Linked DNA regions of Homo sapiens: regions 1 and 2 are each linked to region 3. Evidence: fine-mapped expression QTL. A gene starts in region 3. Each other region holds a variant in brackets. All regions are shown on one strand. Distances are from middle to middle. Region 1 overlaps RCC1L (RCC1 like). Region 2 overlaps CASTOR2 (cytosolic arginine sensor for mTORC1 subunit 2). Region 3 holds the start of RCC1L (RCC1 like).

Evidence for each region. PIP is the estimated chance that this variant, and not a neighbour inherited with it, causes the effect.
Region 1: its variant is fine-mapped to the expression of RCC1L in whole blood (INTERVAL, PIP 0.96).
Region 2: its variant is fine-mapped to the expression of RCC1L in whole blood (INTERVAL, PIP above 0.99).

The regions. Positions count from the first base shown.
Region 1 is chr7:75,039,731-75,043,922 of GRCh38, reverse strand. RCC1L (RCC1 like) reads left to right here. Exons shown (of 11, transcript NM_030798.5): 11 at 814-1,740. The coding sequence ends at 891. Among named protein-coding and RNA genes, the nearest start is that of RCC1L, 32 kb to the left of the region's middle. The variant T/C (reference allele first, on the strand shown) is at 2,628.
Region 2 is chr7:75,021,919-75,026,087 of GRCh38, reverse strand. It overlaps CASTOR2 (cytosolic arginine sensor for mTORC1 subunit 2), which reads right to left. Exons shown (of 9, transcript NM_001145064.3): 7 at 4,132-4,169; 8 at 1,554-1,648; 9 at 1-1,454. The coding sequence ends at 1,389. Among named protein-coding and RNA genes, the nearest start is that of RCC1L, 50 kb to the left of the region's middle. The variant T/C (reference allele first, on the strand shown) is at 1,680.
Region 3 is chr7:75,071,607-75,075,798 of GRCh38, reverse strand. It overlaps RCC1L (RCC1 like), which reads left to right and starts at 1,997. Exons shown (of 11, transcript NM_030798.5): 1 at 1,997-2,385. The coding sequence starts at 2,062. RefSeq lists a silencer at 2,092-2,311.

The sequences.
Region 1 (4,192 bases), 32 kb after region 3:
CTGGAGCTGGGGGTGACGGGTAAGATGAGTGGAGATGTTGGGCCAGTGGGGCCTGATTCCCAGACTGGACCTGCAAGGCAAGAGACAGGGTTTCTGGAGCTTGTTTTTGAGACAGAGTCTCGCTCTGTCACCCAGGCTGGAGTGTAGTGGTGCAATCTTGGCTCACTGCAGCCTCTACCTCCTGGGTTCAAGCAATTCTCCCACCTCAGCCTCCCGAGTAGCTGGGATTACAGGCGCCTGCCACCACGCCTGGCTGGTCTCAAACTTCTGACCTCACGTGATCCGCCTGCCTTGGCCTCCCAAAGTGCTGAGATTATGGGCGTGAGCTACAGCGCCCAGCCCCTGGAGCTTCTTAGTGAGCCATAGCAGTGGCTCCCAGGAGAGATCTCTGAACACCTGGCCTGGGGGCATGGAGCCTAGTGGGGTTAGGGTCAGAGGGGAGCAGCCCCTGTAGGGCGTGCAGGTTCCAGGGATGCACACAGGCCCATGTTCCTGCCCGACATGCCCTCTCAGGCTGATGTGAATGGTGATGGCTGCCATTGACTGGAGGGAGTTGGGATGGCCTTGTCCTCATGACCACACGCAGTTGTCCTGATGGACCTGCTGGGGAGGCCTAAGTGCCCCCATTCCCAGAGGGTAGGGAGCCGAGGCTCAGAGAAGCTGTCTCCTACTGAGACAAGCTGTCTCCTGCTGAGACAAGCTGTCTCCTACTGAGTCTCCTACTGAGAGGCAGGGCCGGGTCGGCCAACACCAGCGCCTGTCTCCTCCGGGTGCGCCACCCCCACCCATGGTATGCTGGATCTTATTTTTCAGGTGACGATGCCTGGGGAGCCTGTGGACGTGGCATGTGGCGTGGACCACATGGTGACCCTGGCCAAGTCATTCATCTAAACCTCCCTCACCTGCTTGGGCGGCCCCGTCCCGGGAACCACTGGCACTCCTTGGCAGAGGCCAGCGCGTGGCCAGCCCCCCGGGGTTCTTGGATGGTGGTGGCGGAGGACCCTGCGTGCAGTGTGACGCTCTGTCCTGAATCCCTTAGCGGGTACCTACCAGGAGGATCAGGGCAAGGTCCCTCTCCAGCTGCAGGTGAGGCCTGCGGAACTCAGCTTGGATGGCAGCCTTTGGTGGGCCGCTGTGGCCCGCACGTCTCTGTTCTCTCCAAGTAACATGCGACGGTGTCTGGTGTCACGTCTCGCCTGAGAAGCCCGTCTTAGGAAAGCTTAGCTTGAACACAGTGCTCGGGAGGTTTCTGCTCTGTCTGTCATGGCAGTCTCTTGGTTTGTGTCTGGCCAAGGCCATGCGTGTGCCTCGGACCGAGCCCCAGCTTAGGCGAGGGAGTCAGGCTGGCTTCGGCCCTCGGTTTTCATTCAGGCCACCCTGCTCATGGCCCTTCCTGGCCGCCTGCCACACCGCAAGCTCGCTGGGGGGACACTAGAAGCACCGTGGCCTGGGATTCCATCTGGAGCTGTCCGCAGGCACCAGCCCCAGCCTCCCACCACGCTCACTGCCTGGCTTGGAAAAGTTAAGAAGCCCCTCAGGAAGAGAATCGAGGCCAAGTTCCTCTGCGCCGAGGGCCCCGAGCATATCCGCCAAGGCTCAGCTGCAGTGCCAGGCGGAGGAGGAAGATCCAGAAATTGTGAACAATGTTTGATTTAGTAGCGTGACTTGCCTTTCCCTTTAAAAACATCTTTTACAAATCTGTCTTGGAATAAAGTCTATTTTCTGCCTTTTGGTTTTTAAGCTCTGAAGAGATCTTCTTAAATCTTACTTGATCATTTAGAGTTTTGCTTTTATAAACAAGCCTTTTGATACAGAGGCAGAAGCCAGTGAAAAATACTTTTATAGAGATGAGGTCTTTTTATTTTATTTTTTTATAGAGACAAGGTCTTGCTATGTTGCTTAGGCTCCAACCCCTGGCCTCAAGCCATCCTCCTGCTTAGGCCTCCCAGAGTGCTAGGATTATAGGTGTGAGCTACCGTGCTCAACTGAAAAATAGTTTAGAAGACAGTCCTACTCGACAAATATTTTCTTTTTCTTTTCTTTTTTTTTTTTTTTTTTTGAGACAGAGTCTTGCTTTGTTGCCCAGGCTGGAGTGCAGCAACATGATCTCAGCTCACTGCAACCTCCACCCCCTGGGTTCAAATTATTCTCCTGCCTCAGCCTCCCGAGTAGCTGCGACTACAAGTGTGCGCCACCACACCCAGCTAATTTGTTTTCTGTATTTTTAGTAGAGATGGGGTTTCACCACGTTGGCCAGGCTGGTCTTGAACTCCTGACCTCAGACGATCTGCCTGCCTCGGTCCCCCAAAGTGCTGGGATTACAGGTGTGAGCCACCGCACCCAGCCATACTTGACAAATATTTTCTGAACAGATTCTACTCCCGCAGTTCAGTTGGGAGAAAATACTTGGTACTCATGTCACAGGCTGGACTCCCATGCCCTGTCTGCCTTTACCTCGTTCCTTTAATGCGTTCACAACAGATACTTGTCATGTGCCCCATCGGTGCCCAGTACTGTCCTCATGCTGGGGCATGTGGTGACAAAAATCCCCGCACCGTGAAGCTTACATTCTAGGGAGGGAAACGGGAAAAATGAGAAGCAGCATATGAAGTGGTTCTGTGGGCCGT[T/C]GAGAGAAAGCAGGAGGAGAGGATGGGATCTCGGGAGGGCTACCCTTTATTTATTTAGTTAGTTAGTTAGTTAGTTAGTTATGAGATGGAGTCTCGCTCTGTCGCCCAGGCTGGAGTGCAGTGGCGCGATCTCGGCTCACTGCAACCTCCGCCTCCCGGTTCAAGCAATTCTATCTCAGCCTCCCGAGTAGCTGGGATTATAGGTGCCTGCCACCACACCCAGTTAATTTTTGTATTTTTAGTAGAGATGGGGTTTTGCCGTGTTGGCCAGGCTGTTCTCGAACTCCTGACCTCAGGTGATCCGCTCACCTTGGCCTCCCAAAGTGCTGGGATTACAGGCGTGAGCCACCGTGCCCGGCCTAGAGCTGCACTTTAAAGTGGAATGGTCACCCAGCCAGCAGTGTCCTTGCTGTGACCTGCGGCCATGAGAACCAGCCACTCAGATATCTAGGGGAGGGGCCCTTCACCTGGGCTGCGAACCCCATTCTTAGGTTTATTACAGTCAAATTTTCTCATAAACTTGAAATAGAAATTGAAAACCGTGTGTCATTTTTCCTTCCTGAAACCGTTACTGGGGCTGGGTCTAAAGTCGCCTCTGCAGTGAAGCAGGGTAATCCGACCTCAGTGAAACTCAAGCCTAGATCAAACTCACGTATTGATCTAGAGATGGTAAGTGCCCCTGGAGGTCAGACCCGGGTCACACTGGGCGGGGTTCGGGATGGCAGGTGAGGATGGGGGATGGAGGGTCTCTGGAGAAGGTGAGTTTTTAATAAACCTCCCACCCTAATGGCAACCAAGATACAGATCTAGTAATGATCTTTTTTGTTTGTTTGTTTGAGACAGAGTCTCTCTCTGTTGCCCAGGCTGGAGTGCAGTGGCATGATCTCAGCTCACTGCAACCTCCGCCTCCTGGGTTCAAGCAATTCTCTTGCCTTAGCCTCCCGAGTAGCCGGGCCTAGAGGCATGCACTACCACGCCCGGCTAATTTTTGTATTTTTAGTAGAGACGGAATTTTGTTATGTTGGCCAGGCTGGTCTCGAACTCCTGACCTCCAGAGATCCGCCCACCTCGGCCTCCAAAAGTGCTGGGATGACAGGCGTGAGCCACCAGGTCCAGCCCCAGTAATGATCTTGACTTTGGACATAGCAAGCAGTGTAGAAGCAGGGACGTCCTTCGGTTTGTCTTTTCTTTCTTCCAGCTGGGCTCTGTCTGCCCAGGAGGGCTGCTTGGCTGTGCCTTCTGTGGGTCACGAGGGCTCCTGGTTGGAGCTCTTCTGCTGTGGACCAAGCCTTCTCCCCAGCTGTCACCTGTGCCTGCATCTCAGCGTCTGTCCTCTCTTTCCCTAATGCCGCCCCTCCCCCAACCCCAGCATTTGACACACACGTCCATAGAAACCCTACTATGCCATTAGCTCGGTTGCTAGGCTTGATCATCGTGTTCCTGCAAAAAATCAGTGTTTGCAAGCTCCCGTCTCCTCTCGCTTTAGTGAGCACGTGAATGGCACCCGCGATGGAGTGAGCCTTGTACCAACCCCATGTGTCCCCAGGCCATTCTCCATACACACC
Region 2 (4,169 bases), 50 kb after region 3:
ACCACTCAGCTGGCCTGCCACCTGGCTGTCCACCTCCCCATGGCCCTCGGGTTCCCTCACCCCCTCCGGTGCTCAGATAGAACTACAGCTGGTTGGTGGGAGTTCCCATGTGGGGTGCCAGCGGCTCCAGCGTCTTGTAACAGATCTCTGCTCCTAGCTTCCCTTCAGAAGAGAGGGCCCAGGCTCCTGTGACATCTCCCGATTCCCACTGCCTGTCCCTGGAGCCACAGAGCACCAGCTTAGTGACACAGAGCCTCCAGGCTCCCTTGACAGAACTCAAACAGGTCCTATCCCTGCCAAACAGAAACTACCGCCAAGAGCACCCTGGGTGCAAATACATTAAATAAAAAACTAAAACAAAGTATGGTTTTCTCTATTAAGGCTCAGTTAAGCTGCCTCCTGGGTCAAGTACTCATGAATGCCACAGCCCCCAGCCAAGGGGCGGGTGGGCAGGCAGGTGACTTGGGGGCAGAGGAGGGAGGAGGACGGCGGGGAGTCCTATGCTGGTCTAGTTGTCTGTTGGGGAGGTGGGACACCACCTAAGAAACCTCAGGCCTGGAAAGCCAGGGATGTCCCTACTGGGGGAAGCTGAGGCTCTACCTGCCCAAGTCGGGTCCAGGGAGAGCCGAGGGGACAGGAGCTGGTGCTCCAGGCTGGTGGGTCTCCTGGGACCCTCCCTCCTCCCCCAAGGACTGAGTGCTTGTGGGGGAGGGTCTGGACAGGGCCCTCTTGGCAGTCTTGCTGGGAGTCGGGCCCAGGCCCTGTGGTTGGCAGGCGAGGTACAGGGGGAGTCTGGGTCCTTCCCAGCTCGGGGATCCCACCTGGGTTCCTGTCTGAGCCTCACCAGCCCCGATGACCTGAGGGGGCCACGCTGGCCTCCACTCCGAGGGAACCAGCCCTGAGCTGATGGAAGCAGAGACCAGTGACCACAGTACTCACCCCCAAACCCTCCAGGGCACCCCAAACTCGGCCCCACCCCGCCAGCCCCAGCCCTGCAAGGTGACATGACAGCTGGCACACCGGTGTCTCGCAGGAGGGACCGGCTTCCCTCGGCATCTGCCCCTGGCCGTGGGTGAGGCCGGATGAGAAGGCGGATCAGCTCACAAGCTCCCTGGGCCTCCGAAAGCATTTTCCGGGGTGGGGGAGGTAGGGAAGAGAAAGGTCGTTCTCTGGAGGGTCGGGGGGCTCCGGGAAGGCAGGAGGGCATGGAGAGGCCTTGGCGTGGGCCCCTGCCCTGGAGGGATTGGCAATCGAGGGAGTCTCCCACAGAGGCCCCTTCCTCAGGGTCCCCAGGCTGATTTTCCAGTCTGTAGAGAAATACTGCAAGATCAATCTTCAGGGTTAGGGCTGGGCCCGGGCGGCGGCAGGGAGGAGCAGAAGAGACCCTTCTAGTGCTTCTCTGCTTGGCTGACCTTCAGGGCACTGATGACACCATTGATGTTCTCTTCGGGGACCTGTGCAGGGGTAGAGGAGGCAGATGCCTGCCCGTGAGCCCAGGAACCTGCTTCCCCACCCCGGCCCTGCCCTGGAGGGGTCTGGCGCTGGACACTCACAAGTGCATGATCAAACTTGAAAGTACTGATGTAGTAGGCTGGGATGTCTGCAGCAGCCAAGGGCTCTGAGATCTGGGCCACGATGCCACACTCATCTAGAACAGGAGAGACCGTCCTTAGCCTCTG[T/C]GTAACCTGGCTACCCTTGCCTGTGTGGCTCTTCAGCCTCTACCCTCTGTGGGCAATGCCTACCCTGCACCCACCATCCTCCTAGAGAATTCCCATCTGCTATCCCTTTTATTTTTTTTGAGATGGAGTCTCGCTCCATCGCCCAGGCTGGAGTGCACTGGCGTGAGCTCACTTCACTACAACCTCCACCTCCTGAGTTCAAGCAATCCTCGTGCCTCAGCCTCCCAAATAGCTGGGATTATAGGCGTGTACCACCATGCCCAGCTAATTTTTTTGTATTTTTAGTAGAGATGGGGTTTCACCATGTTGGCCAGGCTGGTATCGAACTGCTGTACTCAAATGATCCACCCACCTCCACATCCCAAAGTGCTGGAATTACAGGCGTGAGCCACCGTGCCTGGCCTCCCACTGGCCATCCCTCTTGAAGGCTTAACCCAGATGTCCCCCAACCAGGAGCCTTCTCTGGTCGCTGGCCAGTGAAATAGTTTGGCTTTGTGTTCCTGCCCAAATCCTCCAATTGTAATCTCAAGTATTGGAGGTGGGGCCTGGTGCAAGATGACTGGATTATGAGGGTGGATTCCTCATGAATGGTTTAGCCTCATCCTCTTGGTACTGTTCTCGTGACAGTAAGTCCTCACGAGATCTGGCTATTTAAAAGTGTGGCACCTTGGCTGGGAGTGGTGGCTCACGCCTGTAATCCCAGCACTTTGGGAGGCCGAGGCGGGTGGATCACTTGAGGTCAGGAGTTCGAGACCAGCCTGGCCAACATGGTGAAACCCCATCTCTACTAAAACTACAAGAATTAGCCGGGCGTGGTGGCACGTGCCTATAGTCCCAGCTACTTGGGAGGCTGAACCCAGGAGGCGAAGACTGCGCCATTGCACTTCAGCCTGGGCAACAGAGCAAGATCCGGTCTCAAAAAAAAAAAAAACAAAAAACAAAAAGAAAAAAAAAATGCTATCCACCAAAGACGTTGTCTGGACAACTGTGGAAACAGAGGAAAGACTAAGTCTTAGGGAATGACTGAAAATTTTCTCCTGTGGAATCCTGTCATTGTGGTTATATAGGAGAAAGTGTTTCTTCTTTTTTTTTTCTTTTTTTGAGGTGGACTCTCGCTCTGTCGCCCAGGCTGGAGTGCAGTGGCGCCATCTCGGCTTGCTGCAAGCTCCGCCTCCCAGGTTCATGCCATTCTCCTGCCTCAGCCTCCCAAGTAGCTGGGACTACAGGCGCCTGCCACCACGACCGGCTAATTTTTTGTATTTTTAGTAGAGACAGGGTTTTGCTGTGTTAGCCAGGATGATCTCGATCTCCTGACCTTGTGATCCTCCTGCCTCGGCCTCCCAAAGTGCTGGGATTACAGGCGTAAGCCACCTTGCCCGGTGCTTCTTCCCAGGATGGAAAAGGCGAGGCATTTAGGAGTAAAGTGTTGGGTGTCAGACTCTCTGGGAGATATGTGACAATTACATGTATTTACGTGAAGAAAACATGTTAAAAAATTGCCAGCAGTTATTATCTTTGAGCTGTGGAAATAAGGAGTGATTTTTTTTCTCTTTAATTTTTATCACAGCCCCAATTTATTCTTTTTTAAATTAAATTTATTATTATTTTTTGAGACAGAGTCTTGCTCTGTTGCCCAGGCAGGAGTGCAATGGAGCGATCTTGGCTCATCGCAACCTCTGCTTCCTGGGTTCAAGCGATTCTCCCATCTCAGCCTCCTGAGTAGCTGGGATTACAGGCGCACGCCACTGTGCCTGGCCAATTTTTTGTATTGTTAGTAGACATGGGGTTTCGTCATATTGGCCAGGCTGGTACTCCTGACCTCAGGTGATCCACCTGCATCGGCCTCCCAAAGACCTGGGATTACAGGCACGAGCTAACTCGCCCAGCCTCTTTTTTTATTTTTAGAGGCAAAGATTTGCTCTGTCACCCAGGTTGGAGTACAATGGCATGATCATGGCTCACTGTAGCCTTGAACTCTTAGGCTCAAGTAATCCTCCTGCCTCAGCCTCCTGAGTAGCTGGGATTACAGGCGCCAGCCACCATGCCCAGCTAATTTTAAAAATTTTGGTAGAGACAGGGCCTCGCTATGTTTCCCAGGCTGGTACAGAACTCCTGGGCTCAATGGATCTTTCCACCTCGGCCTCCCAAAGTGCTGGGATTACAAGCACGAGCCACCGCGCCCAGCTGCTTAATTTTCTAATAATAAGCAACATATTAAATTTCAAGAGGGGGCAAAATAAAAGCACTCCGATTGAAGCCTGCTCCGCACTTCCCCAAGAGGCCTGTGTACAGCTGCCACACACCAGTGAGCAACAGAAATTTCAGGCTCCCCAAGCCTCAGTCTCCCCATCTGTACCCCCCAGCAGGGGCCGAGTCACTGCGGACAACGTATGTGAATGGGCTCAGCAATGCCAGCTCCCTCAATTCCCCATGTAATCCCCCCAGGACTCACCAAACCCCAGGGGCTGTCCTCCAATCCGGACCATCTTC
Region 3 (4,192 bases):
TCTCTTCTGGTAAAACAGATGCCATGGCTGGGCGCGGTGGCTCAGGCCTGTAATCTCAGCACTTTGGGAGGTGGAGGCGGGCAGATCACCTGAGGTCAGGAGTTGGGGACCAGTCATGGCCACCATGGTGAAATTCCGTCTCTACTAAAAATACAAAAAATTAACCGGGTGTGGTTGTGCACGCCTGTAATCCCAACTACTTGGGAGGCTGAGGCAGGAGAATTGCTTGAACCCAGGAGGCGGAGGTTGCAGTGAGTCGAGATCATGTCACCGTACTCAAGCCTGGGTGATAGACTGAGACTCTGTCTCAAAAAACAAACAAACGAACAAAAAAACAGACGGCACGCTTGACACAGCAGCTATGAGTTGGACCATGCACTTGCCTAAATGTATGGTGGTCCCCTGTCCCCTACCACAGTCCATCTTTTTTTATTTTTTGAGACGGAGCCTCGCTCTGTCGCCAGGCTGGAGTGCAGTGGTGCGATCTCGGCTCACTGCAACCTCCGCCTCCCGGGTTCAAGCTATTCTCCTGCCTCAGCCTCCCAAGTAGCTGAGACTACAGTGCGTTCCACCACGCCCAGCTAATTTTTGTATTTTCAGTAGAAATGGGGTTTTACTATGTTGGCCAGGATGGTCTCCATCTCTTGACCTCGTGATGTGCCTGCCTTGCCCTCCCAAAATGCTGGGATTACAGGTGTGAGCCACTATGCCTGGCCAATCCATCAGTTTTTTTAGGAGCCAAACAGGTGAACTCAATGGGGAGCTACCCATTGGATAGGAATCACCACCCCTCTGAATCTTTTACATCTTTGAAGGTGGCACTAGCATCTACAATTCCATGTGGCAAACAGTGTGTGTTCTGATTGAATACTGGCTGGGTCGAGACAGGGTAAGGGGACCGATGTGAATGGCTAAGTTTATCTATCCCAAATGGTGGCAGGGAACTTACTACCAGGCGGGTCCATAGACACATTTATTTTTACTTTTATATTTACATTTAATTTAATTTTTTTTTTTTTCAGAGACAGGGTCTCACTCTGCTGTCCTGGCTGGAGTGCAGTGGTGCAATCATGGCTCACTGCAGCCTCGAACTCCTGGGCTTAAGCCATCCACCTGCCTCAGTCTCCTAAGTAGCTGGCACCACAGGTGCACACCATCACGCCGAGCTAATTTTTAAATTTTTTTGTAGAGAAAGGGTCCCACTATTTGCCCAGGCTGGTCTCGAACTCTCAAGTGATTCTCCCACCTTTGTCTTCCAAAGTGCTGGAAGACTGGGTCCGCCGCAGAGAATACATTTCATAGCCCGGGAGACTGGTGGTTTCAGTGCCTTCATGAATTTTACTCCCTGTAGTAAGAGGCTTTCCATGAGCAGTCTTGTGGTCACCACATTTTATTAGTGGGTTTTCCCCAGTCATCTTCCATAAAACAGGCCTGCACAGGCTGGGGGCGGTGGCTTATGCCTGTAATCCCAGCACTTTGGGAGGCCGAGGTGGGTGGATCACTGGAGGTCAGGAGTTCAAAACCAACCTGGCCAACATCGTGAAACCCTGTCTCTACTAAAAATACAAAAATTAGCCGGGCGTGGTGGCGTACGCCTGTGGTCCCAGCTACTCGGGAGGCTGAGACACGAGAGTCACTTGAACCCAGGAGGGGGAGGTTGCAGTGAGCCTGTCGATAGGTTTGAGGGGACCTGGGCAGGGGATGCGAAGGCAGCAGGGAATCGTCCACTCCAGCTCGCTGTCGCTGGAGGACGGCCTGGGGCGGCGTGGGAGCAGACCGGAGCGGAGACGGCTGCAGCAAGGCCAGGTAAGAAATGTCGCGGGGCAATAGCAAGGGAGCAAAACAGGACACGCAGTTTCGCTAAGGGACAAGAATCCTAATCCCGCCCCTAACCCCGCCCCTCACCATCGCCACGCCACGCCTCCCTGAGCCTTGGGCTGCCGTCAGCGCCTTTGCCTTCAACCAGGAGTAAAAGTGGCCGTAGCCTCTTCCGGCGAGGACTGGTGTTAAGGGTCACGCAAGATGGCGGCGCCCAGAGGCTGCTGAGGCGCGGAACGGAGGATGGCGCTGGTGGCGTTGGTGGCTGGGGCTCGGCTGGGGCGGCGGCTGAGCGGGCCGGGGCTGGGGCGAGGGCACTGGACGGCGGCCGGGCGCTCCCGGAGCCGGCGCGAAGCGGCAGAAGCCGAGGCGGAGGTGCCCGTGGTCCAGTACGTGGGCGAGCGCGCTGCCCGCGCCGATCGCGTCTTCGTGTGGGGCTTCAGCTTCTCGGGGGCGCTGGGCGTGCCTTCCTTTGTGGTGCCCAGCTCCGGGCCCGGGCCCCGCGCCGGCGCCCGACCGCGCCGCAGGATCCAGCCCGTGCCCTATCGCCTGGAGCTGGACCAAAAGGTGCAGGCCGCGGCTTCCTCCTTCTCTCCTTCTCTCTCTTCCGCGCTCCCGGCCTCCCTCGACCTGTTCGGCTCTCTTCAAGAAGTTGGCTCCTCTGGGTGGACAGACTTCCGGCAGGACGACCCTCGAGCTGGCTGCAAGCCCAGGAGGGGAAGGCGTTAGGGGTGGCCATCAACATTTATTGGGTGGCAGTGCCAGATGTTGTGCCGGGTCGTGTCATTCGCTTAGCACCCAGTGAGTCGACAGTTATTCCCAATTACAGGGAAGGAAGGGGAGGCCCAGAGAGGTTGAGGCCCGAGGCCCCACCGCTGCTAGCTGTTTATATGCGGTGGAATTCTCACTCAGGCCAGCGTGACTGCAGGAGTTCTGATGTTAGGAAAGCAAAATTCAAAAGTCCATTGAAAATGTATACCAGCTGAGGTGTTTCAATGAACAACTCAGAAAGGGGATTTTTTTGTTTTAATTTATTTTTTAGAGACAGGGTCTCGCTCTGTCGCTCAGGCTGGAGTGCAGTGGTGTCATCATAGCTCACTGCAGCCTCGACCTCCTGGGCTCAAGAGATCGTCCTGCCACCTAGCCCGGCAAATTTTTGTATTTTTAGTAGAGATGGGGTTTCGCCATGTTTGCTAGACTGGTCTTGAACTGAACTCAAGCGATCCGCCCGCCTTGGCCTCCCAAAGTGCTGGGATTACAGGCGTGAGCCACTGTGCCTGGCTGAAAGAGGATTGATTTTAAAATCAAACCATCTTTGGTCTATATCCAACCTCACTGGAAGCCCCGGTTTTCTCATCGGGTCAGTGAAGGGAGGATTGATGAGAGTGTAGTTAAAACACCCAACAAAGACCTTGGGGTTGTCACTGTGTTAAATTCACAGTAGCTGTAGTACTGAGTTTTCCTTTTCATGGTAATAGCCTGAGTACGTAACGGTGTAGTGTCAGTGAAAAGCATGCAGTCAAGTTACTCAACCTTTAGAAGCCACACTTTCTCATCTGCCTTATACTACTGCTAACAGCAATAAGAAATAGAAAATATAATAACAAAAGCAATAACAAAAACTAAACAACAACAACAAAAAGCATACAATATAGGCCAGGTGCGGTAGCTCATGCCTGTAATTTCAGCACTTTGGGAGGCCAAGGCAGGAGGATCATTTGAGTTCAAGAGTTTGAGACCAGCCTGGGTAACACAGTGAGAACTCATCTCTCTGTCTCTCTCTCTCTCCATATATATATATATATATATATATATATATGTATATGTATATGTATATGTATAAATTTAAAATACAAAATAGAGTACAAAATATAGGTTTGTTTTTTTTTTTTGATCTGGCTCTGTTGCCCAGGCTGGAGTACAGTGGCGTGATCATGGGTCACTGCAGCCTCGACCTCCTGGATTCAAGTGATCCTCCTGCTTCAGCCTCCCATGTAGCTGGGACCAAGCTTAAATTTTGATTTTTTCATAGAGACAGGTTGTCACTTTGTTGCCTAGGCTCAAAATATAGCTCTTACCTTGAGATGGGTACTATTCCCTATAAGGGCTTTAGCTATATTAACTCGTTTAGTCTTCACAACAGCTTAGTGAGAGAGATGGTACTATTATCATCTTTACTTTTTAGAGAAGGAGAAACAGATATAGAGGTAAAGTAATCTATCTCAGATCACACAGTTGGTAAGGATGGGGCCAGGATTCAAAACTAAGGAGATCTGTCAACTTACCTACCGCGCTAAGAGATGGTGGTGTTTTTTGTTTTGTTTTGTTTTGTTTTGTTTTTGAGACAGAGTCTTATTCTGTCACCCAGGCTGGA